Homo sapiens: one gene and its partners. The protein of the gene in region 1 interacts with the protein of each later gene in a pairwise test. Each region holds a gene or a part of one and is shown in the gene's direction. Other genes may lie near its edges. The genes, in order: TMPRSS2, PLLP, ADIPOQ and BNIP3.

Region 1 (6,988 bases):
TACTCCAAGTGGCCCACTAGCAAAATTTTCGCTTGCTGTTTCTGTGACTTTACGCTCTGCTGACCTAGAGGTCTTAGTTCCGGAGGGAGGAATGCTGCCACCAGGAGACACAACAATGATTCAATTAAACTAGAATTTACGACTGCCACCTGGCCACGCTGAGCTCCACATGCCTCTGAATCAAAAGGCAAAGAGAGAGTTATGCATTGGCTGGGGAGACCCATCTGGACTACCAAGGAGAAGCTATAGACTACTTCTACTCCACCAGGAAGGTAAGGAAGAGTGTGTCTGGAATACAACGATTCCTTAGGGCATCTTTTAGTTTTACCATGCTTGTGATTAAGGTCAATGGAAAACTACAACACAATCCAGGCAGGGCTATTAATGGCCCAGACCCTTGAGGAATGAAGGTTTGTATCACTCCATCAGGTTAAGAACCATGACCAGCTGTCATGCTTCCCGAAGGCAGAGGGAACGCAGAGTGGGTAGTGGAAGAAGACAGTTACAAACACCAGCTATTGCCCATGCAACCTGTTATAAAGCATTAGATTGTCACGAGTATTTTCTCATTATTTTTTTCTAAATACATTTGTGCACATATTTGTATATACAGTATATATCTCTGTTGTCTTTTCTCTCATATTCCTTTATTACATAACTTAAGGCATATTGACTTTATATCATTGTATTAAGTATTGTTAATTTTACATTATGGTATTTAAGTTATGGAATACCAAGGAGAAGTGTAAACACTGGAGAATTTTACATCCACTTCTGGGGAAGGGCTTAGTGCATTTTTTGGTTGTATGCAGAAGAGTTTTATCACATTAGGCAAAATTATTACTTTGCTATTGTCTTTAGAGATAAAGTATGGTGTAAGGAGATGTGTAGGTGTGAAGTCGACAAGGGGTCAACTTATGGTGGCATATATATTCATGCTTAGATAAAACTAAGGTCACATTCTGTCATACAAGCTGGAGTACAGTGGCACAATCAAAGCTCACTGCAGCCTCAAACTCCTGGGCTCAACTGATCCTCTCACTTTAGCCTCCCAAGTACCTTGGGCTACGGGTGCGCACCACCACACTTGGCTAATTTTTAATAAACTTTTTGTAGAGGCAGGATCTTGCTATGGTGTCCAGGCTAGTCTCAAACTCCTGGGCTCAAGAGATCCTCCCACTTCAGCCTTCTAAATGGTGGGATTACAGGTGGGAGCCACTGCATCCAGCCATGGTTAATTTTATGTGTCAAGCTGACTTGGTCATGGGATGCCCAGGTAACTGGTTAAACATTATTTCTGGGTGTCTGCGTGTGAGGGTGTTTTTGGAAGAGATTAATGTTTGAAAAGACTGTGTAATGCTGATTGCCTTCAATTTGGGCAATCGGTTGAGAGCCTGAATAGAACAGAAAAGGGGAGGAAGGTTGAATTTGCTCTCTGCCTGACTGTGTGAGCTGGACTTTGATCCTCTCCTGCCCTCAGCACTCCTGGTTCTCAGGCCTTCAGACCTGGACTGGAATCTGTTCCATCTGCTCTCTAGTTCTCTGGCTCTCAGGACTTTGAAAGCTACAACACCAGCTTTCCTGGGTCTCCAGTCTGTAGATGGCAGATTGTAGAGCTTCTCACCCTCCATAATTGTATGAGTCAATTTCTTATAGTAAATCTTTATATATATTATAAATAATATTTATTACATATAAGCTGTGTATAATATATATCATATCTGTATTATATTATGCATATAAAATACATGTTTATGTATATATTTATATGTATTTATAATATATAAGATATTTATAATATTTATAAATAATATATAGAAATATAGATGTGTGTATATACATGTGTGTGCATATGTATATGTGTGTATATATTTGTATTTCTCCTATTGTTTCTGTTTCTCTGGAGAACCCTGATTATTAATATAAAAGGAAAAATAAATGGTGAATGAACAACCACTCCAAGAGGCCTGAGTCTGCGGCAGCACTTACTCCCTGGTTTCTGGGTGGAATTAGTAGGCACCAAACACACTGTCAAGACAGAAATAAGTGAGTTGCCGCTGAAAGACAACTGCACCTGCCCTATGTGCTGGAGAGGGTCTTTGAGGGTTTCCCACTGGGGCAGAGCGCAGGGCAGTGTGGGGGATGGGGAGGGCTGGGGCATATTGGGGACAATCCCTGTTGTGGGTGCCACCAGCAGACCACAAAAGGTGCCAAAGGAGGGAGTGAGAGGGAAGGGTTTACTAGGAAAGTCCTGCCCCACAGGAGGCTTCCGGGAGAGCTTCCCAGGAAGGGAGCAGTGAGCCAAGGCAGCCTGGGATGGGACTGAATGGGGCTTTTTTCTGCTTCCACCTCATTTTAAAGCAAATCATGTTGATTTGTATATTATGCAGGGGAGGAGAAAACATGCTTCCCCTCTACCCTTCTAGTTCGTTCAGCTAGTCTACAAATTAAATTGGCATCAAATAGATGAACAGGAGAAAAGCTGTTTTAATGTATGTACTCACAGATGGGAATCCCACAAGAATATGAGACTTAAAGAACAGGCCAGGTGAGTGAGGGGTCCAGTGCGAGGGCTCACACCTGTAATCCCAGCACTTTGGGAGGCCAAGGCAGGTGGATCGCTTGAGCCCAGATTGGAGACCAGTCTGGGCAACATAGGGAGACCCCCATCTCTACAAAAAATTAAATTAGCTGGGCGTGGTGGCACACGCCTCTAGTCCCAGCTACTCGGGAGGCTGAGGTGGGAGGATTACTTGTGCCCTGGGAGGTTGAAGCTGCCATGAGCCATGATTGAGCCACTGCACTCCAACCTGGGCAACAGAGTGAGACCCCTTCTGGGGGAAAAAAAAACACACGAAAAAAAAAAGGTGCAGCAGCCCGATGATTGAGGCTTATCTGTCACTCTGAGTGACAGAAAGAAATGGGGGTTTGAGGCTTCTGGGGAGCGGTGGAGGAGTGAGGGGAGCGTGAGGAGAGGAGGTGTCTGGTGAACGCAGGTTGCCGTGTGAGGCAGATAAAAGTTTCCCAGGTGATAAAAGTTGTCCGGGAACAGCTCTCTTCCTGGTACAGATCTGCTGACTAACAAACATTTCCTTTATAGGTGCAAATTTCCTTTACAAAAGGGCATTTTCTCAGAGGTACTCTGGTGTCTGCAGTTCCTCAACATAACCAGTTCCAAATCATCAATGTGCCAAAGAGGACTATGTTGGGGTAGCAGATTCTGGTCTCCTCCAGTCCTACTTGGGGTGATGAATTCTGGTCTACGGTCCTATTAAATTCTGGTGAATTCTGAGCCCCCACAATTGCAAACATTAGAAAGAACCTCTCAAGTGCCCGGGAACAGCCACGTCTTCCTGGCTGAGGTGTGTCCCACCACTTCCTCACTCCCGCCCTGGCCGGTGGTGCCGAGAGACCTGGGACCATCCGGGGGAGCACTTTCCACCGGACGCTGGTGGGGGCCAAGAAATGCCAGCCTAGGCGGACTGGGGAGGGTCTTGGGCGTCCGGCGCTGTGTCCCCGCCACTCGTGCTTGGGCCAGCAGTCCCCAAGGCCTACCCTGGGTCCTTGCCCAGAGGCTACAGTGGGTTCCCCGGAGGCCAAGACGGGGCCGGCCGCCTACAGGAGCTCGTGAGGTAGCAGCTCCGGGGGCTCACCCAGGACTCCAGGAGCGCTCCCCAGAATCCCCTTCCTTAACCCAAACTCGAGCCCTCGGGCAGCGCTGCGCCGCGGACCGGAGAGGGGCAGGTTGGCCGCTGTGGCCGGGCCCGGGAAGCGCCCCAGAGTCCCTTATGGGTCCCTCCGCAGCCGGGGTTGAGCCAGGCAGGGAACCCGTCCCGGACTTCCCTTGGGAAACGCCTCCTCCCGCCGCCCCCGCCCCCGCCCGCCCAGGGTGACCCGCGACCCGCTTGGGGGTGTCGCCCTGGACCCTGGGACACCGCCTCCTGAGATTAAAGCGAGAGCCAGGGCGGGCCGGGCCGAGTAGGCGCGAGCTAAGCAGGAGGCGGAGGCGGAGGCGGAGGGCGAGGGGCGGGGAGCGCCGCCTGGAGCGCGGCAGGTGAGCGGCGCCGGTACCAGGGTCCCGGCTCGGGGTCCGGGCTGGGGAGGGGAACCTGGGCGCCTGGGACCCGCCGATGCCCCCTGCCCCGCCCGGAGGTGAAAGCGGGTGTGAGGAGCGCGGCGCGGCAGGTGAGTGCGCCCGAGGGTCGAGCGCTGGGGCCAGCCGGGCAGGGCGCCTCCCGGGGTGCTGGGAGAGTGCTGGGCGCCTGGGACCCCTTGCGCACGGCCGAGAGCCCTCGCCGCCCCTGTTGGCTTGGCATCGCGAGGTTGGGGCAGGTGGTCCTGCGAGTCCCTAGCCAGTTGGTGGAAGAGAGTCCCCCGGGGTCCCCAAAGCTGGCTCCTAGTCCGCCTGCCCTCCACGGCCCCCGCCTGGGAGCACCGGTGCGCCTTTTCTCTTTGGGGAGGAGGACTGGGAGTGCTGTCGGTTGGCTTCTTTGTTTGGGGGAAATCTCTGCAGTCCCGCAGTGTTACCTGAACTCCTTCTGCTTCTTGGTTCCCTACTGAGGTAGGGAGAAACTGGAAACTCGCTGAGATGCCGGGAACGATACGGCCGGCGCGGCGGGGACCGCTGGGCCAGGCTGCTGGAGGGCCCCCGGGCGAGGTGCGAACGGCCAGTCAGTCTCGGGGAGGGACTGCTCGCGACTCAGGCCCCGTTGCGGCGACCCGCTGGCGGCGATCAGGGCCGGGGCCTCCTGGACACCCGGCACCGGCAGGAACCCGCCCGGGAGGAGCCGGTCTGGCTCCTCCGCTTGCGCTCCGTGCCGGGTTGGGGGGAAGGCGGGGCACCTGGGCGCTTCGGTCCACCTCATCCTGTCCTGCCCGGCTCGGCACAGTGGCACCCTGAGTGGTCAAGTGCTCCAGTCTGGCAGTGGGCGCTCTGCTCGAGCACGGGTCCAGCTGAAAAACTGCCCCATGTCCAGAAAGTTTGTGCGCCGAGAGCCCTGAGCGCTTGTGGCAGAGGAGGGCCTTCGCCCGCTCCGCCGTAGAGCACAGCGCGGTGGCCCTGAATCCTGTTCAGAACGCCCTGGTGGCAGCCCTAATCACGAGGAATCCTGGTGGCTTGTTTGGGAAGGAAAGGATAGCACGGCGGCCCGAGGTGAGCCCTGTGGGCAGGGAGCACCCAGGGCTCGCCTTCGAGGCTGCGCAGCCCTTCCCTCCGTGCGAACCTGTGCAGTGGTCCCGCGGGAAAGATGAGCGCATCGCGCCCAAGGCAATGCCTGACCTCACGGAGCTCCCAGCCGCGAGAACCTCCCGAATCATGGAAAATTACAAAGGCTACGCAGCCCAGTTACAAGGCATTTGGAAAACCTAAAGTGAGACTAAGTTTGTTGACCTGTCCCAGGAGATCTGGGAAGGTACTCCAGGAAGTGGGGATGCAGCCAGCCTCCCCTGAAGGAAGGATGGGGGTTGGGAGTGTGGCAGGGAGAGTTTACCAGCGCAAAGGGCCTTGGGGACGCAAGTAGCTAAGTCAGTCCTGGCTCCTGAGCTGCTGCTGTGAAGGGAGGACCTGGTGGGCTAGGTAACCGGGAGCTCCCCCAGAAAGTCACTGGAGGTTGCTCAGGACTTCCCCACCTTTACTGAGTGCTTTTGAAGAAGTAGGACCTGCCCTGCTCCGCTACAGAACTACTGGACAGGTGAGGTTAGAATGAAACCTAGCAACACCCTCGGGTAAGGACACACTAGGCTGGAGAGTTCGGGGTGCAACCTACGGGCTGAGACCTCTGCCTGGAGATGGCCATCTACACCTCGGCCTCTGGTTATTTTTAATTATCAGCTGGTGAGCTGGCTGGGCTTTTGTTCTCTGCTTGGACATTTGTTTGGTCCCCAGCAGCTTCCCTTATTCCCACCAGCCAAGGACAACCTTCTAACAACAAGCTTGTGCTGTTGCTGGAGCCTCAGGCAGGGCCTCCCAGGTTGCTAGGTGCTGGCCTGCCTGGCACCGTTGGCCACTCTATCTTGAACTCAAGTCACCTTAATTGTAGGAGTATATTTGGCTGCACTGGCATTATAATAATAACCACAGACATTGATGTGGCACTTTTTTCAGCCAGGCATCATTGCAAACCCTTTATAATGTACTTAACTCAATTGTAAGGAAACTGGGGAAGAGAGGTTGGGAAGCTTGTCCAAGATCTTGTAACCTGTAAGGGGCAGAACTGGGGATAAACATGGCCTGTCTGGCTCCATAGGTCAGTGCTTCCAGTGTCGGGCTCTGAGTTGGAGACACAGGATGCTTAGAAGGGGCTTTAGTGACAATCGGCACAGTACGGATTCCTTTTGATCCTTCCCTGGGTTCTCCCTCCAGGATGTTGGAATGTTACCAGCAAGTGGAGGAAAGGAGGGAAGGAAGCTGGAAACAAGGCGCCCGGAATCCTGATTGAAAAGGGCTTGTTCCTGGGCCAGGCTCTGGTTCTCCCCGACCTGAAAGAGCCCAGCCCCTGCCCACAGCCCTACCTGGGCTCCGTGCTGCTCCCTCTAGCAGTATGACATGGCCAGAGTGCCTGGAACTCTGAAAGGGGGCCTGCGGAGGGCTGACCTCCTAGGCCATGGGGGCATTGAGTGACAAGACGCTGGTGCAAATGTCCTGTAGGTGAAAAGGTAGATGCGTGCAGTACCTTATGCCAGTAACCACCACCACCACGATCATCATCATCCGAGTGTGTTGTCCCCCTACCAGGAAATGTAAACCAAAAGTCTGGCTGATAACTCTTACCCTTTTCCACCTGAATCTGCGGCAAGATTCCCTAGGGGATCTTCGTAATAATATGGGATCATTGCCTTGGTCCCAATTATTACATCAGACTCTGAGAATGGGGCCCAGGCATCTTATTTATTTATTTATTTTTCTAAGCCCTCTTGAAAATTCTGGGTTTGGGGAGCACTGATCAGATCTAAGCCTTGGACATTGAGGTAGAAAGGAAAGGTGAATGGT
Region 2 (7,000 bases), on another chromosome or scaffold:
CTGGCATGGTGGTGGGTGCCTGCAGTCCCAGCTACTCGGGAGGCTGAGGCGGGAGAATGGCGTGAACCCGGGAGGTGGAGCTTGCAGTGAGCCGAGATGGCGCCACGGCACTCCAGCCTGGGAGACAGAAAGAGACTCCGTCTCAAAAAAAAAAAGAAATAAAAAAAAAATCTGCTTGTTGGAGAAGCTGCATCCTGAGCTGTTTCTCTGGCAACAGGTAGTTCCACTGGGTCTGAAATGGGATATGTGGGGGTTAATCCAACAGGCACCACCATCTGCTGGGAAGCCATGGTAGCTCCCATCTATCAGGCCAGCACTAGGCTCAGGCCCTTTGCCAAGGCCTTTAGATCTTCTTAGTCGGCCCCATTTTAGGTGAGAAAACTGAGGCTCAGAGGCCAGTTCTTTGCCCAAGATCTCACAGCCCTCCTCCACAGGAGTGATTTTTCTGACTTTTCTGGCCTATGGTCTTAATGACCACGTGTGGCTTTGCTGCTACCTTCCCAGGATCTGTCATTATGGAGGGAGTGGTGGGGACCCTGGGCCCACAGCCTGCTTTCCAGGAGCTCTTGGTCAGTGAGAGAGGTGCCCAGAGGATGTGCTTCTCCCAGAGGGATCAGAGAAGGCTGCATGGAGCAGGAAATAAATGAGAAAATGGAAGCTAATTCTCCATCAAACCCTTCTGTTTCCCAGGATTTGATGAATGTTCCTGGTATGGTGGGAGGAAGGGGAGGTGGGTAGAAAGGCTCCCAGCTCCTGGAGAAGGAGATACACTTTTCATTCGGTATCAGAATGTGTCCTGAAGAACCAATCTCAGTATTCTTCACAGATGTCTGGTGGTGTTCATTGATTTATCACTATCGTTATTCCTTGTAGATTCAGAAAGAACACCAGATGGAATATGATATTAAACCACATAAGACAGAAGAGTTAAAGCGATGTATCTTTAAAAGCTGGTGGTGTGGAGGGGAGAATTGACTTGCAGCAAGTTTAAGGCTGTTGATTATTTGTTGAACTTCCTAGCAGCCTAGGCAAAAAGGGAAACATGAAGAATCTATGCAGATAGCGTCTAAAAAAGGAGGCAGGTCTTTGTTTTGTTTTGTTTTGTTTTCTCTTGCCAATGGATTCATGTCACAAGGCAGGCAAGTTTGATCTACAGATAACTCTTTTGGTTTTAAAAAAAAAAGGCATCAGTGCTACAGATTTTTGTGTAGCTCAGGTGGAAGAATGCAGAAGGCGTGGTTATTTGCTTATGGGGAGCTCCCAAAGCCTTTTTACAATAAGTATAAAGTAGTGCTGTTAGGTGCCCATCTCTCATTTTTTCAAGCCTCCCCAAGCCGTGGGGAGAAGGATGATCTTATCTGGATTTACTGATAAGTAAATAGGCTCCGAGAGGGTGAGGAACTTGTCCAAGGTCACACAGGATAGAGTGGCAAGCTTGGCTTTGCACTTCGATCTGGAAATCCAAAACCTGGCTCTAGCTATGCTTCCTCATCTTGTTTACTTTGGGGGTGGGAAGTTCTAGAGTGCTTTCTAGGGGGAAAAGGGGGACTGCAGGAAGGGAGACTCATCAGGGGCCAAGGCCATCAGGGAGGGCTTCCTGGCATAGGAAGGGAGAAGGAGGATCAGGACAGACCAGAGCTTGTACAGAGACCTGTCAGTCAGTAGGCGTCCTTGAGGCCCAGGATGTGGAAGCTGTGTGAATGCCCTGTGGCGGTAAGGCCATTTGGTTTGGTACCTTCTGTCCTTCCATTTTGCCCCACCTCCTGGGATTGGGGGTGGCCACACAATTCCCACTTTGCAGGTGAATAACAGATCAAAAGCCTCACCTAGCTAGGCAGGTGGCAGGGTGGCACATGCCTGTAGTTCCAGCTACTTGGGAGGCTGAGGTAGGAAGATTGCTTGAGCCTTGGAGTTTAAGGCTGCAGTAAGCCATGATCACGTCACTGCACTCTAGCCTGGGTGACAGAGTAAGACCCCTACTTTTTTTTTTTTTTCCTCGAGACAAGGTCTTGCTCTGTCACCCAGGCTGGACTATAGTAGTGTGATCACAGCTCACTGCAACCTCAACCTCCCAGGCTCAGACGATCCTCCCACTTCAGGCCTCCTGAGTATCTGGGACGACAGGTACATGCCACAATGCCTGGCTAAGTTTTTATATTTTTTGTAAAGATGGGATTTCATCATGTTACCCAGACTGGTCTCGAACTCCTGGGCTCCAGCAATCCACCTGCCTTGGCCTCCCAAAGTGCTGAGATTACAGGTGTGAGCCACTGTACCCAGTCCTCTACTCTTAACAAAAAAAAAAAAAAAGGAAGAAGAAGAAGAGAAGCCTTCCCTAGATCTCCATGATCCATGGGGTGGCATGGAGAGTGCTGATGGGAACACAGGCCTGGACGCTGAGAGCCTTGGGTTCAAATCCTGGCTCTGTCCCTTTCTGGCTGCATGATCCTGGGGGAGTTCCCAAATTTCCCTGAGCCTCACTTCCTTGTCTGTCAGATGGTGATGGCAGGATCTAGATCATGCCTGCAAAGAGCTAGCCTAGCACTATATGTGGGAATGAAGGACAGTTTGGATTCACAGGGTTATAGGATCCGAGGGTTCTTATGCAAGCATAAGAGGTGCCTTTGCAGCATCTCCAACATGAACTTGCATGCTTCCAGAGACAGGGAGCTCAGTTCTTCTTAAGGCTGCCTGCTCCATCCTTGGGCACTTGGGAGTGTTGGAAAGTTCTTCCTTATGGTGATACCGGCTCTGTCTCCGGCCCCAGGAGGCAGACCAGCTCCTCTGCAGATGAAGGGCAGGGCAGGGACTGAAAGCCAACTCTGGTCTCCAGGAAGGGGCTACCTAGATGAGATTGTTGGAGTCCGAGTGAGGTGTGAGCAGGGCTTGGTCACACTCGGATTGCAATGTCTGAGACTCCCGGGGCTTCCCTTAGCACTGAGATTTGTGGGTGGTTCAGTCTTTTTAGTACAGCATTCCAGGCCCCGCATGCCCAATATCTTCATCCAACCCAGCTCCACTGCACAGAGCAATAAATGCCTTGTATTGTTAGTTCCCCCCACACTCCCCACTTACTGCAAGGGGGGGAGTATTGAGTGTTTGGGAATTAATGTGTAATTACATTATGAATATATGAATACATTCTCCTCACAAAATAAAAAAACCTGTACAGATTACACTAAAGCTGTAGTTGGATTACCCACCTCTGTCCCTAAGGGGACAACTATTTGGGGTGTTTCTAGTCTTTTTTCCTGTGCACTTTTGAAAACATTGATAGTTTTATTCTGTATCCTTTGTTCAGCAAGTTGCTTTTCTCATACTTGGTGCATCTGAGAGCTCTTCTTGTGCTCTGTCATCCAGGCTGGAGTGCAGCGGCGTAATCTCAGCTCACTGCAACCTCCGCCTCCCGGGTTCACGCCATTCTCCTGCCTCAGCCTCCCGAATAGCTGGGACTACAGGTGCCTGCCACTACACCCAACTCATTATTGTATTTTTAGTAGAGACGGGGCTTCACCATGTTGGCCAGGCTGGTCTTGAACTCTTGACCTCAGGTGATCTGCCTGTCTCTGCCTCCCAAAGTGCTGGGATTACAGGCATGAGCCACCGTGCCTGGCCACTCTTCATGTTTTGAGACTTGTCTTCCTTCCTTGTAAACTGTTGTGGAGTAACCCGTAGTGTCCCGGCAGCCTCTGCTCATTTAGCTGTTTCTCTACTGATGGAATTGTTTTATTCTTTGAAAAAAAAATTACAGAGACATAATACAAAGCACTCAAATAGTAGAAAGGGTAATCAAGAAAATGTAATCTCTCTCATCCCTGACTGACCACGCCCCACAGCTGCCCTCACCCCAGGCAACCACATGCCTTGTGTCTCATTCCAGGGTGAGTGGATGCATATTTCTACATAAAACCCACATCCTCACTTAACCACAGATAGGTGCTGTCTGGGCATGTGCCAAGCCATGCTTTTCCCCAGGGCAATACACCTAGGGATATTCTGTATCAGTGCACAGCAAGCTGTGTCCATCTTTTTCATACCTTTATTACCTAATTTCTTTTTCTTTATTTTTATTTTGTTTGTTTGAGGCAGAGTCTTGCTCTGTCACCCAGGCTGGAGTGCAGTGACGTGACCTCAGCTCACTGCAACCTCTGCCTCCCAAGTTCAAGTGATTCTCCTGCCTCAGCCTCTTAAGTAGCTGGGATTACAGGCACGCACCACCATGGCCTGACTAATTTTTGTATTTTTAGTGGAGACAGGGTTTCACCATGTTGATCAGGCTGGTCTCAAACTCCTGACCTCAGGTGATCCGCCCGCCTCGGCCTCCCAGAGTGCTGGGATTACAGGCGTGAGCCACCGCACCCGGCCCCTAATTTCTTTAATAGGTAATGTATTTACAATGCTCAAGAATAAAATAGACAGGGAAGGAGTACAGTGAAAAATCTCTGTTCCCTTTTGGTTAAAGTTGACTCCTTCATGCCCACTCTCAGTTTTCTATATCCCATTTTAAGACTTTCTTTAAGGAGACCTATGCAAATGTGGCTCTAGATTCCTCTCTCTCCCAGTTTATATAGTCTCCCCAAGATATATAGTCTAGCCACATCCTTCTGCACTTTTTCTTTTACACTTAAAAAATGAATCTTGGGGGTCCTTTTGTCTCAGTGTGTGGAGTGCAATTGCTTCTTTCTTTATGGCTTCTATAGTATTCCACCATGCAGCTGTGGTGTGACTGTGTGGTCAGTCCCTTTGTTGACAGACACTTCGGGTTTTCTATTCCTTTGCTGTTGCGCACCCTGCTGCAAGAAATGCCACCAAGTGCATCTGTACGATATGTTTCCAGGAGTGGGACTACTGGGTGGGAGGATACATGCATTTGGGATTGTGATGTAGATTGCCAAATGCCTTCCGGAGAGGTCACACCCTTCCTGCCTGCAACAGCATGCCTCCTGGAAGGTTCCTGTTCCCACAGCCTCCCAACATGGTGATTTAACACACTTCTGGATGTGCCCCAATCGAATAGACCAAAATGATAGGTCAATGTAGTGTTATTTTCATTTCTCTCTCTCTCTTTTTTTTTTTTTTTTGAGACAGAGTCTCACTCTGTCACCCAGCCTGGAGTGTAGTGGCATGATCTTGACTCACTGCAACCTCTGCCTCCTGGGTTCAAGCAATTCTCTGGCCTTAGACTCCCGAGTAGCTGGGATTACAGGCGCCCACCACCAAGCCCGGCTAATTTTTGTATTTTTAGTAGAGACGGGGTTTGGCCATGTTGGCCAAGCTGGTCTTGAACTCCTGACCTCAGGTGATCTGCCTGCTTCAGCCTTCCAAAGTGCTGGGATTATAGGCATGAGCCATGATGCCCAGCTAATTTTTATATTTTTAGTAGAGACAGGGTTTCACCATGTCGGCCAGACTGGCCTCGAACTCCTGACCTCAGATGATCTGCCTGCCTCAGCCTTCCAAAGTGCTGGGATTACAGGCATGAGCCACCAAACCTAGCCTATTTTCAGTCTCTTATCAGTGAGGTTGACCTTTTAAAAAATGTGTTTGGGTTGTTTGTTGGTTTTTGAGACAGGATCTCACTCTGTCACCCAGGCTGGAGTGGAGTGGCACGATCAGGAATCACTGCAACCTCCGCCTCCAGGGCTCAAGCCATCCTACCACCTCAGCCTGCCGAGTAGCTGGGACTACAGGTGCTCCTCACCATGCCCAGCTAATTTTTGGTAGAGACATGGTCTCACTATATTGCCCAGGCTGGTCTCGAACTCCTGGGCTCAAGCAGTACTCCTGCCTCGGCCTCCCAAAGTGCTGAAATTATAAATGCAAGGCGCGGCGCCAGGATCTAAAAGATGTTTAAGAGCCGTTTGTATTTCCTTGTCTGTTTGTATTCTTTGCTCATTCTACTGAGTGTGGTTGGTCTTTGCCTTAATAACTGCTAGGAGTTCTGGATTATTTGCAAATATTTCTTTCCTAATTTGTTTGTTTTGCTGGGTTTTTTTCCCCCTCTCATGGTGTTTTTTTTTTTTTTTTTTTTGCCTTGCAAAATTTTGTTGTAGTGTTTTTTTTTTTTTTGCTGAATTTCTTTATTTCATTCCTCTTCCTTTTTTCTTTCTGGGTTCTGGAAATTGAATCATAGTTCAGTCTTTTTCACTCCAGTTGTATCTGTCTGGAATGTATTAACATTGTTACATATTTGTTGTATTTAATTACCTTGTTAGCTTCTATTGTGACAGATAATACAGGTTTCCCACTTCCTAGTGATTTAAGTTTCCTTTTTAAAATTAGCTTATATATGTGATATATACAAGTTCATCAATGGGGACTAGTTTAGATAAATTATGATACATCTGTACAATGGTGCATGATGCAGTGAGTAAAAAGATATCCCCCCACCCCTCAAAGAAGACAATGCAACAGCTCTGTGTATAAGGATGGACAATCTCCAGGCTACCTATTTAAGTGAAAAAAGCAAGGTGCAAAATTGTAGCATGCTATCATTTGTGTGGAAGAAGTACACAGATACAAGACACACTTATCTGAAATGCATGTGTGTGTGTGTGTGTGTGTGTGTGTGTGTGTGTGAAGTCCCTGGAGACACACATAAGAAACCACTCTTGGCCGGGCGTGGTGGCTCACGCCTGAAACCCAGCACTTTGGGAGGCCGAGGCGGGCGGATCACGAGGTCAGGAGATTGAGACCATCCTGGCTAACACGGTGAAACCCCGTCTCTACTAAAAATACAAAAAATTAGCCGGGCATGGTGGCGGGCGCCTGTAGTCCCAGCTACTCGGGAGGCTGAGGCAGGAGAATGGTGTGAACCCGGGAGGCGGAGCTTGCAGTGAGACAAGATCGCATCACTGCACTCCAGCCTGGGTGACAGAGCAAGACTCCATCTCAAAAAAATAAACAATAAACTACTCTTGATCCAGGCACAGTGGCTCACACCTGTAATCCCAGCATTTTGGGAGGCCGAGGCAGGCAGATCGCCTGAGGTCAGGAGCTC
Region 3 (6,972 bases), on another chromosome or scaffold:
CTGAAATGACACATCCTACATTCCTTTGCCAGATGGGTACCAGTTAGCTTGTGCACATGGGAGACAACCGTGAAAAGACTGAAGTGGGGAAGAAGGGAGGAGCTGTTGTGTTTCAGTGAGCGCCCTTGGCAGTGGCGGTGACAGTGGCTCCTGTTCAGTGGCAATGGTGGAGCAGCTAGCAAGACATGCAGTAAGCGCAGGCTCATAGGCTATGGTCCAGGAGCAGTCACCGATTCCTGGTCTTTAGGCAATATCATCTCCCTTTGCTTCTCCAGCCTTTCTAAAATTATTGTACCTTGACTAGTACAATTTTTTAGTATTGGGGGTAGTCCAAGGACACAGGCTTTAAAAAGTATGAATTCAGGGTTGCCTACCTGCATTGACTGCGCTTGAATCATGATGGCCTTCTGGTCGGTGGCAGGAGGTGACAGTCCAAATCATGCAGTAGCAAACCAGATACTTAAATTATCATCTGAGATACTTCAGAAGTACAGCCGTAGCCATACCTTCAGAAGAGATAAAGAAATGTTCTCCTGGCCAGGCGCGGTGGCTCACGCCTGTCATTCCAGCACTTTGGGAGGCCGAGGGGGTGGATCACCTGAGGTCGGGAGTTCGAGACCAGCCTGACCAACATGGGGAAACCCTGTCTCTACTAAAAATACAAAATTAGCGGGGCGTGGTGGCACATGCCCATAATCCCAGCTACTCGGGAGGCTAAGGCAGGATAATCGCTTGAACCTGAGAGGCAGAGGTTGCGGTGAACTGAGATCATGCCATAGTACTCCAGCCTGGGCAACAAGAGTGAAACTCCATCTCAAAAAAAAAAAAAAAGAAAAAAAGATAAAGAAATGTTCTCCTTTCTTGCCATTTCTAGGGGTTTGGGGATGGCGTACATTGCTGCAGGGCGTGCTCACTCTACCATCTTGCTCCAATCTTTATTTTTCAAAATACAGTGCTTATGCTTGGTTACTTCAGTTAAGATTATTTTTAAAAATCATAATTAAGCAAAAATATATGGCCATGCTTAAACATATTTAAGATAAATTAAGTGATTTGGCCTGTTTCAGTATCCCAACTCACATGCTAACAGGGGCTTGACCTGTAGCTACGGTACCCTGGAGGAAATGATCGCATTTATTTGGTTATTTCGGTCTAAGTAGTAATAGTTCTGTCCTGGGAAAAAGACTAGCCTCAAGGCATTTCTGATTGAATGTTTTTCAATTACAGTCTTTAAACCAGTATGCCACAGAACTGGCTCTTTCCACATGACGGCCTTTGTGGTGGGTGGCAGATTGCCCTGAGGCCTCGCAAAATGCTAGGCTTTCACAATGTCACTGACTGACAGCCAGGCCCAGCACAGTCTTGGTGTGATTGTGGGGCTAAAGTTATTCCACCTTGTGCAATAGCTACAGCTTTCTCTAACCAGCTGCATTCTTATAAAGTTAGAAGAAAATACTTTTTTTTTTTTGAGATGGATTCTCGCTCTGTTGCCCAGGCTGGAGTGCAATGGTGCGATCTCGGCTCGCTGCAACCTCCGCCTCCTGGGTTCAAACGATTCTCCTCCCTCAGACCCCCGAGTAGCTGGGATTGCAGGTGCCTGCCACCACGCCCGGCTAACTTTTTTGTATTTTTAGTGGAGACGGGGTTTCACCATCTTCGTCAGGCTGGTCTCAGACTCCTGACCTCAAGTGATCTGCCCGCCTCAGCCTCCCAAAATGCTGGGATTACAGGCATGAGCTACTGTGCCCGGCCAAAGAAAATACTTTTTATGCCAGCCCTGAAACTACCCTGAAGCACATACATCAACCTTGAGGCCTCACACTCCATCAAGAGGGGTGAAGGGCATGAGGAATTAGAAAGCATAGGGATTTTTAGTTAGACAGATCTGGTTCAAATCCTAGACTTGTGCCTTGAACAAATTATTTACCCTCATTGAACTCTAGATTCATTATTTGTAAAATGAAAGACAATAATAGTTATCTCCAAAGGAAAGTTGAATATGATCATTCATTTATTCATTAATTCAACATTTATTATTGCCTACTTTGTGCCAGGTTCTATTCTAGGAACTAAGGGATACAACTTTGAATAGGCAAAATCTCTGCTCTCCTGAAGTTTACTTTTTTTTTTTTTTTTGAGACAGAGTTTCACTCTTGTCACCCAGGCTAGAGCGCAATGGTGCTCTTGGCTCACTGCAACCTCCACCTCCTGGGTTCAAGTGATTCTCTTGTCTCAGCCTCCCAAGTAGCTGGGACTACAGGTATGTGCCACCACGCCCGGCTATTTCTGCATTTTTAGTAGAGATGGGGTTTCACCATGTTGGCCAGACTGGTCTCAAACTCCTGATCTCAGGTGATATGCCTGTCTTGGCCTTCCAAAGTACTGGGATTACAGGCCTGAGCCACTGCACCTGACCTGAAGTTTATGTTCTATTAAATAGCAACAGACAGTAACATAAACCAAAAATAAATAGGAAAACACCATAACAAAAATCAAACAGTGATATAATTGAGAGTTGCTTCTATTTCTTTTTGTTGTCTTCTTGGTTCAATCAGCCTGCTAAACTATATGGAACCTCATTTTCATGGGCCACTTATTTAAGCCGGGGGACCTTGGAAAGTCTCTCATGTCTCTCATCTCAACGGCCTAATGTGACTTCTCTTGAAATATTTGGACATTAGCAGGAAGCTGAGGCTTTACATCAGATCTTTACTTTAATGGTGGACTTGACTTTACTGGTAGATTTTTAGGCTCTGTGTGGACTGTGGAGATGATATCTGGGGGGCAGGCAGACACTTGCCCTGCCTCTGTCTGAGAAAATTCTGTTTTGGATGTCTTGTTGAAGTTGGTGCTGGCATCCTAAGCCCTTGCTGGGGTCGTAATTTAATTCATCAGAATGTGTGGCTTGCAAGAACCGGCTCAGATCCTGCCCTTCAAAAACAAAACATGAGCGTGCCAAGAAAGTCCAAGGTGTTGAATGTTGCCACTTCAAGCCTAAACTTTCTAGGAACACCTAAGTGGGTGGCAGCTTCCAGTTCTCCAGGCTGCTTCTAGGCCAGAGCTGGGTTCCACAAGAGACAGAATAGGCATATATATGCTTAAGGAACTGGAAAAACAGGCTCTCTCTCTCTCACAAACACACACACACACATACCAAGGTAGCTGTCAAAATGTTATCCGAAATTTTGGAACCAAAAAATCTTGAAAGATGGTATTCCAATATCACATTTTATGTAAGTTTTCTATTATATTAGATTCAAATTACGATTCGAGGCCACAAGCTTTAAGAATTCAGGGCCTTTTTAACTTGCCAAGCCCCACACCACTCCAGGAACTTCCCCACACCCCAGTTCTCAGAATTCATGTGCAAGGTCTTTCCTAAATCCAGGGTCCAGGTCAGAGAGTGGAGGATGTGCTCTATTTCTTACCTGATTGCAGACCCCTCTGACAGTGCTCCCTTCTGAAGCACTCACTGTCTGAACGTACACAGTCTCAGACTTAATCATGCACAGTGAGCAAGACTGTGGTGTGATAATTGGCGTCCCTGACTTATTAGGGCAAATCTATGGGAGGGGGAGACCTCCTGGACCACTGAGCAATTAATTCATTTACATTAGGAAGTTTCTCCGTCAGATGCAGGAAAAAAATCTTGTTTTCCTGCTGTGGTTTTGACTTTTGCCCCATCTTCTGTTGCTGTTGTAGGAGGCAAAATAAGGGTCAAGGCCTGGAAACACAAGTGCTTTGACTGAAGCTCCACTTGGCTTCCGAAGCCCAAGCTGGGTTGTACCAGGTTCCCTAGGGTGCAGGCTGTGGGCAACTGCCAGGGACATGTGCCTGCCCACCGGCCTCTGGCCCTCACTGAGTTGGCCAATGGGAAATGACAATTGTGAGGTGGGGACTGCCTGCCCCCGTGAGTACCAGGCTGTTGAGGCTGGGCCATCTCCTCCTCACTTCCATTCTGACTGCAGTCTGTGGTTCTGATTCCATACCAGAGGGTAAGAGCAATTCTGTGAAGTTCCAGGCTGGGTGGGGGATGCATGCATAGCCTCTGGCTGGGATCACCCAGGCTCTCCCGTCCGTAGTAGTGTGGGAGTGGATACAGGTGGATACTCTGGTCAGAGCAGCACTGGTGGAGGCAGATATGCACTGGGCTTCTTCCTCCGTTCTCCCACAGCCCCAAGAGAGAAAGGGTTATTTCAGACATTCCTTCTAAGATGCATGGAACCATTCTGAATTTTGCCCAGTTCGCTCTGTAGCAGGATACCTATTGAGAAAAAGTTAGGGTCAGTAAGGTGGAAGGGTCTGTCCACAGATGAAGTCCAATTCGATTAAGGGGGATAAGGGAATACATTGCCTCTTAGCTTGACCAGGTAGGGCAAAGGAAGAAGCATATATGAAGGCAGCTTCAGAAAAGTCAAGCTGAGCACTGACTTCAGACTGGAATTAGGAATCCAGCTCTGCCACTTTATTCTACTCAGCAAATATTTACTGAGCAAATTCTATGGGCTAGACAGTGGATTGGGTTCACAAGATACAATGAGTGTGACATGGTTGTTGTCTATGGATTTGGGGATATATGTAGGTATAGGGATATCTTACAAGGTAATCAAGAGGTTCTAATGAGGCCAGCCATGGTGGCTCACACCTGTAATCCCAGCAATTTGGGAGACCGAGGCGGGTGGATCACCTGAGGTCAGGAGTTCCAGACTAGCCTGACCAACATGGTGAAACCCCGCCTCTACCAAAAATACAAAAATTAGTTGGGCGTGATGGCAGGTGCCTGTAATCCCAGCTTCTCGGGAGGCTGAGGCAGGAGAATTGTCTGAACCTGGGAGGCAGAGGTTGCAGTGAGCCGAGATTGTTGCCACTGCATTCCAGCCTGGGTGACAGAGCGAGACTTTGTGTCAAAAAAAAAAAAAAAAGAAAGAAAAGAAAAAGAGGCTCTAATGAGATAAAATGAGAAAAGCCTGGCATATAGTGGCAACTTATGAAAAATTGTAATTAAAAAAAAACATTTTCTGACAGAAGAAACTGGATCTACCTGGTTTTTCTGAAGCCTAATCCTGCTCGCCCCAGTGAGTGCTGTTTCTGAGGCATCCTGGTTGTTTTGAGCTGTGGATGCTGAAGGTTAGAGTGGGAGGGATTTTAGAGGTTAGGTCTGCCCCTCTTGTGTTAGAGGACATGGATCCCTGGTCTGGAGAGGTTCTGGTTTTTGGATCAAGCCTCACAAGGGGTGGCACCAACTCACTCCTAGGAACTCCGCTAGAAGGAAGGCCAGCTCTGCCTAATTCGGTTGGGGAGATGGGGGTCCCTTTATGCTAGCAGAATATGTCCGAAGGAGCATGATGGTGTCAGCTTTGTTCATGAAGGCCAGTGGTACACAGGGAGCCCGGCAGCTTCCTCAGCAGTCCCTGCTGCCACTCTTCCTTAAGTCTTGAGGAGTCTTTTTTTGGCACAATCTCAGCTCACTGCAACCTCCGCCTCCCAGGTTCAAGCGATTCTCCTGCCTCAGTCTCCCAAGTAGCTGAGACTACAGGCATGCGCCACCACGCCCAGCTAATTTTTATATTTTTAGTAGAGATGGGGTTCACCATATTGGCCAGGATGGTCTCGATCTCTTGACCTCATATTCCACCTGCCTCGGCCTCCCAAAGTGCTGGTATTACAGGTGTGAGCCACTGCGCCTGGCCGAGGAGTCTTAAGCTGAGATCACAGCATTGCACTCCAGCCTGGGCAAAAAAAGCAAAACTCCATCTCAAAAAAAAAAAAAAAAAAATAGACACAAGACTGGCTCCTTGTCTTTTTTGGGGACAGGGTCTCACTCTATCACCCAGGCTGGAGTGCAGTGGTGCAATCACAGCTCACTGCAGCCTCGATTTCCCAGGCTCAAGTGACCCTCCCATCTTAGCCTCCTGAGTAGCTGGGACTACAGGTGTGTGCAACCATGCCTGGCTAATTTTTAAAAATTTTTTGTAGAGATGAGGTCTCACTATATTGGCTGGGGGGCCTCAAACTCCTGGGCTCAGCAGTCCTCCCACCTCAGCCTCCCAAAAGGCTGGGATTATATGCTTGCTCTTTTTAAGGTGGCTGTAGGGACAAACTTTCCACCTACTCCTTGTCAAGCCAGTGGACCGGTGGTCCCAGACATACGGCTAAAGTCAAGAGGTGATGTCTTTTGGAGAGATACTTTCAATCAGGAATTTCAATCAGAAATTCAATCATGTGGAGAGAGACTTATCCTAAAAATGTGGTGGTGCGTGGGATGCTCTGTTTTATTAGTTCCTTGACAGTATGTATGTGTGTGAGTGTGTGTGTGCGCGCGCGCACACTCATTTGGATGGGTGTGTATGTGTGGGGGGGGGTGGTGCGTACGTATGTGGATGTGTGGATGTGGTGTGTGGGTGTGCGCGTGCATAGGTGGAGGTGTGTGTATGGGTGCGGGTATGTGTGTGTGTTGGGCATGGAGATATTGACAGCTCTCCCAGGGCTGAGTGAAGGCTTTCGGGCAAAGCTCCTGGGAGCTAGGCAAAGCTGAGTTGATTCCTGGTTATGCCATTTATTATTGGGTTGCACCGTGTGAAACTGCCAATATTCTACACTTTGACTTTTATTTATTTTTATTTTTATTTTTTTTGAGACAGAGTTTCACACTTGTCACCTAGGCTGGAGTGCAGTGGCGCGATCTCAGCTCACTGCAACCTCTGCCTCATGGATTCAAGTGATTCTCCTGCCTCAGCCTCCCAAGTAGCTGGAATTACAGGTGCCCGCTACCACGCCTGACTAATTTTTGTATTTTTGGTAGAGACGGGATTTCACCATGTTGTCCAGGCTGGTCTGAAACTCCTGACATCAGGTAATCCACCCACCTCAGCCTCCCAAAGTGCTGGGATTACAGGCATGAGCCACTGCGCCCGGCCCATTTTGACTTTTAAAAATGGGAGTTTGATATAATTCAATCCAGTGGTTGAATTA
Region 4 (7,262 bases), on another chromosome or scaffold:
TGGACCACTGAGGGCCTCTCCCACTCCATTCCTGCCTGTAGAAGCTGAGTTCTCACCAACTGCCTGCTCCCTGCTGTCCTGCCACACATGACAGCTTCATTGTCCACTGTTGCTGCCGGAAAATAACCGTTTTCCTTAAATATCTGCATCAGAGACAGCAGAGGCGATGACAATGGGTGAGTGAATCCAAAATTTAAGGACAGAGAGGTTTATTTCACTGAAACAAAGATTCCCTAAAACGAAGCAGGTGGATTATTCAGTGCTTGCTGGAGAGCATTGAAGAGAGGCTCCAAGGCCGGGCACAGTGGCTCATGCCTGCAATCCCAACACTTTGGGAGGTTGATGTGGGTGGATCACTTGAGGTCAGGAGTTAAGAGACCAGCCTGGCCAACAAGGCAAAACCCTGTGTCTACTAAAAATACAAAAATTAGCCAGGTGTGGTGGTGGGCACCTGTAATCCCAGCTACTTGGGAGGCTGAGGCTGTAGTGAGCCGAGATCACACCACCGCACTCCAGCCTGGGTGACAGAGTGAGACTCCGTCTCTAAAAAAAAAAAAAAAAGGCTGCAGGTGGGAGATGGCCTTGGGTGCGGGGAAAACAAGTACATAATTCCCAGAGGACAGTGAGATTCACCCAACAAGCCAAAGTGTGAGAGCTGATGGGTAGGGCTTTGGTGCTCCACCTTCCCGGTCAATTCCAAAGCCCCCCTTTTTTGAATAAGGACTTTAGCCAAGGCTCTTCCTGATGCCTTGCCCCAGTTCTTTCCTAAAAATGTAGATTGGAGGAGAACTCAACAATGTACTCAAAGGTCAGACAAATCTCTGCTTAGATGTTTTGAAGGGTTTGTAAAAACCTTTAAATAATATTCTGGAATGCCTGTTAGCCTCCAAGATCATTAGAATGACTCCTCATAAATTCTACTTTCCTCAGTGGCTTAAGTGAGGGTTTGGTTACCTAAGTTAAAAAGATACCAGCTTAACCGGGTGAATATACAAACCCACAAATTAGTAAGCTATGCAGATCAACTTCCTAAGACAATTCAGAAGGAAGAAAAAAACTAAGGTCTCAAAGATTATGAATTTGCAACTACAAGAACTGACTAACCAAATGAGGCCTTTTAAGAAAAGACAGGGCCTCCTTCTAATGACAAAAGGGCTGTTTGCTTCTACTGTAAAAAGCCTGGCCATTTCAAAAAAGATTGTAGAAAATTTAACAGCAGGACCAGTGAAAAACCAGGATCCCACATGATGAACAGGATTGCTCTGATGATCGAAGGGAGGTGTTCCTATTTCTACTAATGCCTTAGGAGAAATGGACATTGCCATAAATGAAGAACAGACACATGCCCTCAAAGACACTGGTGCCACTCTTTTCGTCCACTTTAAGTTGTCTCCTTCCTTGGAGTAATGGAACTGTACAAACGGTAGGGTTATCTCATCAGCCTATCACTGGATACAAGTCCAAGCCCTTAGAATCCCAGGGCCCTCATTCTTTTCTTCATTCCCCCACCTCTCAGACATCTCTTAGGCAGACATTTTGTGTTGGAACGTCACAATGCATGCTTTCCTTCTCCCAAAAGGAAGAAATGGATTTAGGTTTAGAATGGAAGGAGCAAATGGAAAAACTACAGAATGAGAAATTACTGAAATTATAAAAATACAGATCAAACAACTTTTTTTTCAACTGGCACTAATGACACGGATGGCTTAGGGCAAGCTTTGTCAGACCACTTATGGTCAGAGTCTTCCACCGACATTAGTAAAATATATTCAGCCACTTTCATTAAAGTGGAAGTAAACCTGATTAATCCTTTACCCAATATCAGACAATATCCTCTAAGGCCTGAAGCAAATGAAGGAATAAGATCCGTAACAAAAGACTATATTAAAAGGGGTCTAATTATTCCTTGCGCCAGCATGTAATACTCCAATCCTTCTTGTAAGGAAGCCGAATGGGAAGAGCTGGTATTCTGTACAAGATTTGAGAACCGTCATCAACACTGTGATCCCCAGACATCTGGTAGTACCAAAGCCCCATCCTCTTTCGGCAGCTGGAAGTGAGACACTGTGACTCATTTATGTAGTGCCTTCTTTAGTATTCCAGTGGACCTAGAGTCAGTATTTGTTTGCTTTTACTTGGGATGACTGCGAGCATATCTGGCCTATCAGGAAATATTGCTGATGAAACTGCTGCCTCCATCACAGCCCAACAAAAAGCTACTGACTCACTGGCTAAGGCTGCACTGGACGACTGCATTGCTTTCGATTATTAGCTGAGCAAGCAAGTCTATGTATGGTGGCAAATACCTCTTGATGTGCATAAACCCTTTCCACGAAGTAGAAACTCATATGGGAAAAAGTACAAGCCACTAGGCTACACTATTCTGAACAATTCTCCATTTGATTTTCTTCGTAATACTTTTAGTTGACTCCCTCGAATAGGTTCCGTTTTTCATTCTGGCATACACATTCTCTTTTTCATTGTAATCCTTATGTGCACCGTACTTGGTAACATTTTTGTTTTAATAGAGATGGAGTCTTTCTGTGTTGCCAGGTTGGTCTTGAACTATCAGGCTCAAGTGACCCTCCTGCCTTGGGCTCCCCAAATGCTGGGATTACACACAAGAACCACTGCCTGGCCAGCACTACAGTTCTACTATCGAAATTATTAATGCTATGCTATGTATCTCTGGCGGTTTTTTTTTTTTTTTTTTTGAGACAGGGTCTCACACTGTTGCCCAGGCTGGAGGGTAGTGGCCTGATCATGGCTCACTGTAGCCCCTACCTCCTGGGCTCAAGGAATCCTCCCACAGCAGGTGCCACCATACCCAGCTAAGTTTTTTGTATTTTTTTAGGGGAGAGAAAGCGTTTCGCCATATTGCCCAGACTGGTCTCCAACTCCTGGGCTCCAGCGATCCTCCTGCCTCGGCCTCCCAAAGTGCTGAGATGAAAGACATGCGCCCCACACTGGCCTCTGGATGTTTGTTACTCCTGAGAAAACTAAAATCATGGCACTCCAAAGACTAGAGACGATTCAACAGGCAAGAGCAGGGATGAAATGCACGCAGCGACTGAGGTCTGGCTTCGCGGCTCTGTGACCCCGGTTCAGCTTCTGAGCGCCTGGTTCCTTGGCGGGACGCCTCCTCCTTTCCCGCAAGACCAGACACGACTGTCTGGGAAGCAGCGTTTCTGGGGCGCACCTTGACACTTGGATTTGGATCAACAATGCTTTCAAGAAGAAAGACTTTTGATCAAAAGCGGGAAATGAGAAAGCGACTTTCCTCTGAAAAGTGCCTCCCAGTCCCGAGGCTGCGAGGCCCCCACGCCAGGCTGGCTCCCACGGAAGCCGGGCACCCACCCGGCCCGACCAAGCGCCACTCCGCCCCGTGGACGGGGCGTCCCACCCCGGGGACGCCCGCCCCACACCGCGTTTGCACCCCGGAGGCCCCTTGCCGCAGAGGCGGACGGCGCGCCTCTCCCGGGCCCCTGGGGTCCGCGCCTCCCTCGGGCAGACTCTTTCGACTCTGCTCGAGCCTCCGCTTCTTCCTGCGGGCGGACGCCCCGGACACAACGGGCCCCGCTGTTCACGCAGGGGCGCCCCGGCGGGGCGGGCAAAGACCCGGGGACGCGGTCCCGTCCCGAGACGCTCAGCTCCGGCCCACCGCTCGCAGCTCCCGCCCCGGGCGCAGGTCCCGACCCCACGGGCCGTCTCGGAGCCGCAGCGGCCGCTTCCCTGCACGTCCTCACGCCCCCCGCACGGACGCCGCCAGCCCCGCGCCTCAGTTTCCCCACTAGCAGGATGGAAAGACGGGCCCCGCCCCGAAGCGTAGCGGCGTCTCCGTGGTAGCCAGTGCCCAGAGAGTCCGCCGGTCCCACCGCCCCTTCAAAGGAGAACCCGGCCCACCGCCCGCCGCGGCGGCGACCGCGCAGCCCACTCGTCACGCGGCCCGCGGCGTCCAGCCCGGGCCGGCTCACCTCAGGCGGTCGCTGCCGCCCTCGCGCCTGCGCGCCCCTCGCCCCGCCCCTCTCCCCGCCCGCGTCCCGCGCACCGCAGGCCTCTGCCCCTCGCCCACCGCAGGACCCGCCCCGCGCACGCGCCGCACGTGCCACACGCACCCCACGCCCCTGCGCACGCGCAGGCCCCAAGTCGCGGCCAATGGGCGACGCGGCCGCAGATCCGCCCGGCCCCGCCCTGCCCTGTGAGTTCCTCCGGCCGGGCTGCGGGGCTCCGCTCAGTCCGGGAGCGCAGCTGGGCCGCGGCGCTCCGACCTCCGCTTTCCCACCGCCCGCAGCTGAAGCACATCCCGCAGCCCGGCGCGGACTCCGATCGCCGCAGTTGCCCTCTGGCGCCATGTCGCAGAACGGAGCGCCCGGGATGCAGGAGGAGAGCCTGCAGGGTGAGGCGGAGGAGGCGGCGCGGGAGCCGAGGGGGCGCGGGGGGGAAGCCTGGGGAAGGCCAAGAGGGCGCCAAGGGGAGGTTGCCGGGGAGGCCTAGGGGGCATCGCGGGCCGGGCGAGGCTGCGCCATCCTCCCCTTCCGTACCCACCCCTCCTGCGGGCATGCGGAGCCCGGGGCGTGGGGACCCCGCGTACTGCCCGGGGTTCGCGGCCTCGCCACTCGGGCGGGGGTTGGCTTGGACCCGGGTCGGACCGCACGGGAAAGCCCCGATTCTCCAGCTCCGCGCGAGCTAGAATTCCACCTGGAGGTGAATCTGCGTCTCGCAGTTGGACCGAACAGCCTCAAAGTCCACGTTGCCCTCCGCGGTCTGTAGTTCAGACCAGTATTGGTTTTAATGACCAAACACCAAGGCGTGGCAAGTGGCCTGTTATGAGCTTTAATTTTGTTATTAATGTTTATATCCATGGTGACTGTTAGGATTTCCTCAAGGGTGAACGCGGAGATGGGAGGGGGTTACAGCGTTTTTAAAATATGGCATTAAATGGGCATGTTCCAATTTCACTAGAGGGTCGTTCCAAAACAAAGCTTTAAATGACTTACGGGTTAAGAAAACACAAGCAAAAGGACGCTGCCCGTGCAGCACTCAGTCGTTACAGCCTGCCTAATGCCCGAGTAGAGGCTCGCTGTGTGCCCTTGGCTAGATTCGCAAGACCATCCGTTCACGCAGCGGGAAACGCAGGCCCGGGGTGCAGGACTTGCCCCACGCACAGCCGGGTGGCGTGGAGACCCACCCCACCCGGTGGGTCCGCGTCAGAGTCCAGACGAGCCTTTGCTCAGGGAAGCGGGCACTGAAGCCGCCTTCCCAGGGTCCCTAGGGCCAAAGCCTCGGAGGAGGGACCTGGTGGCAGCTGACCTTTGTGTTCTTTGAAGCCAGAGTTTACTAAGCAAAATTAGCATGTAAATAAGCTTGGGAAAGGACTGCTGAAACCTCTGACAGTGAACTTTTAATCTTCATTGAGAGTTTTTAAAACCATATATTCACATAAATTTAGTGAGTTGCTAATTTTATTACAAAAAAAAAGATTTTACTAGGCAGGACTTAGTTACCGTAATATATTGAATAATATATATATATACATATGAACACTACAAGCTTTTTTTTTTTACCTTTTTTTTTTTTTAAGAGACGGGGTCTCACTGTGTTGCCCAGGCTGGTCTGAACTGGGCTCAAGCGATCCTCCCGCCTCGGCCTCCCAAAGTGCTGGGATTATAGGCCTGAGCCACCAGGCGCGCCTGGCCTAAAACCATATTCTTTAAAATCCTGTAATTCGGATTTTTCCTCTTGAAATTTAAACATTGGCTAATTACTATTTTGAAATAGATTAAGAGGTGTTTTCCTATCTTTTGTCATAAAATAAAGTCCAAGGGATGTTTTTATAAACTCTTTGCCATAAAATCACCCATTTTCCGGTTGTGAAGCCGCGTTACTCCTGACATTGTGCGTTTCACTGTCCGGCTGGGATCTGGGCGCTGGGAGGTGGAGGGGGCTCCGGGGGGCTCGGTCCTCTCTCCAATATGTAACTTACACAGGCTGCTGAGTCATTGGCAGTGCAAGGCGGCCAGCGCCGGAGTTACGAGATTTTTGTTTTTCTGTTTTGTTTATTCTATAAAAAGATAGTTACCCGCGGGGTGGATCCCATGTAGGCGATTCCTTGGGCCGCCCTGAGTGTCCGCGCGGCAGGACGGGGCCACTGTGGGCTCGGCGTGGGCGGGGTTGGCCGGTCCCGCGGGCTCCAGCTGCCTGCAAATCCGGGACGGAGCGGTGGCTCAGGCAGCGCTCACCTCTGCCTGTCCGATTTCACTGCCCCTTGTTGACCTCGGAACAGAGAACAATGGGAGCCTTGCAGCCAGACCCACGGATGGAAGCAGCAAGCACTCTCTCCTCTGAGTGTACCCTCTGGGGCCAACTGCTTTTCCTAAAGAGTTAATGGCAAAATGGGCTGATTCTGTTCCTTTCTATCTCTTGATCATTCTAGCTAAAGTTGTTGACTCGCAGGATGCTCGTATTTGTCCTTTTCCTTTTTTTTACAAGCCCAGTCTTACTCCCCCAGGCTGGAGTGCAGTAGCACAATCATTATAGCTCACTGTAGCCATGAACTTGGCCCTTTTCTCCTAGACATGTCACTGCTAACATGCAGGAGAGGTAGGATTCTGTGACGAGACCGTGTCACGGTGGCGGGGGCATCACTTCCTTGAAGGACCCACTGTCTTCACCAGGAGGGCATCAGTTCAGTAAAGTGCATGCCCATTTACTCTGGAGGGCCGTGTTTAATAATCCAAGCCCTCACCTCTTCACCCACTGCTGTGTCTGCAACTGGCAGATGGTTCTCTCTCTTGTCAGAGGCAACTCACCATGGGCAAAGTTGTATGAGGGGAAAAGATGTTTTCTACTTATTTTGGAGTGGAGTTGTAGCATTGTGTGCTTTGAGACCTGAAGGGGTTGCAGACATCGAGATTCTCGTCCAAGACTTGCATTTCATAGATGGTCACAATGAGGTTCTAGAGGTGGAGTGAAAGATAAGGCTGGCAACAACACTTAAGGAGAAGCCAAGGTCTCTGCATGAGGCAGCAGTGGGATACCTGGAGCCCAGATGCCTGAGGCTGCGTGCAATAGGCCCTGGAGGGTCCTGGAGGAGAGGAGGCCAGAGGTCCTGGAGGCAACAGGAAGGTGGAGGGAAACGAGCCCCGTTGGAAGCCAGGGACCTGATTTACCTACCCAGCTGACTTGATACTTGAAATCTTTTGTCAGGCGGGTCTCTTTTGTTCTCTCCCCACTAACCTGAGAAGCTTTAAAGGTAAAACAGC

The links.
Region 2: the proteins of TMPRSS2 (region 1) and PLLP interact in binary tests that used the Homo sapiens proteins (3 or more experiments, as listed by UniProt).
Region 3: the proteins of TMPRSS2 (region 1) and ADIPOQ interact in binary tests that used the Homo sapiens proteins (3 or more experiments, as listed by UniProt).
Region 4: the proteins of TMPRSS2 (region 1) and BNIP3 interact in binary tests that used the Homo sapiens proteins (3 or more experiments, as listed by UniProt).

What each region holds. Positions count from the first base shown.
Region 1 is NC_000021.9:41,505,147-41,512,134, reverse strand, and holds the start of TMPRSS2 (transmembrane protease serine 2), read left to right. Parts: upstream 1-3,976; 5' UTR 3,977-4,054; intron 4,055-4,069; exon of another isoform or gene 4,070-4,130; coding exon of another isoform or gene 4,131-4,185; intron 4,186-6,988. UniProt on the Homo sapiens protein: Plasma membrane-anchored serine protease that cleaves at arginine residues. Participates in proteolytic cascades of relevance for the normal physiologic function of the prostate.
Region 2 is NC_000016.10:57,274,673-57,281,672, reverse strand, and holds part of PLLP (plasmolipin), read left to right. Parts: intron 1-7,000. UniProt on the Homo sapiens protein: Main component of the myelin sheath that plays an important role in myelin membrane biogenesis and myelination. Plays an essential function in apical endocytosis. Regulates epithelial development through the regulation of apical endocytosis.
Region 3 is NC_000003.12:186,838,755-186,845,726, forward strand, and holds the start of ADIPOQ (adiponectin precursor), read left to right. Parts: upstream 1-3,955; 5' UTR 3,956-3,995; intron 3,996-6,802; exon of another isoform or gene 6,803-6,853; intron 6,854-6,972. UniProt on the Homo sapiens protein: Important adipokine involved in the control of fat metabolism and insulin sensitivity, with direct anti-diabetic, anti-atherogenic and anti-inflammatory activities.
Region 4 is NC_000010.11:131,978,895-131,986,156, reverse strand, and holds the start of BNIP3 (BCL2/adenovirus E1B 19 kDa protein-interacting protein 3), read left to right. Parts: upstream 1-4,233; 5' UTR 4,234-4,350; coding exon 4,351-4,396; intron 4,397-7,262. UniProt on the Homo sapiens protein: Apoptosis-inducing protein that can overcome BCL2 suppression. May play a role in repartitioning calcium between the two major intracellular calcium stores in association with BCL2.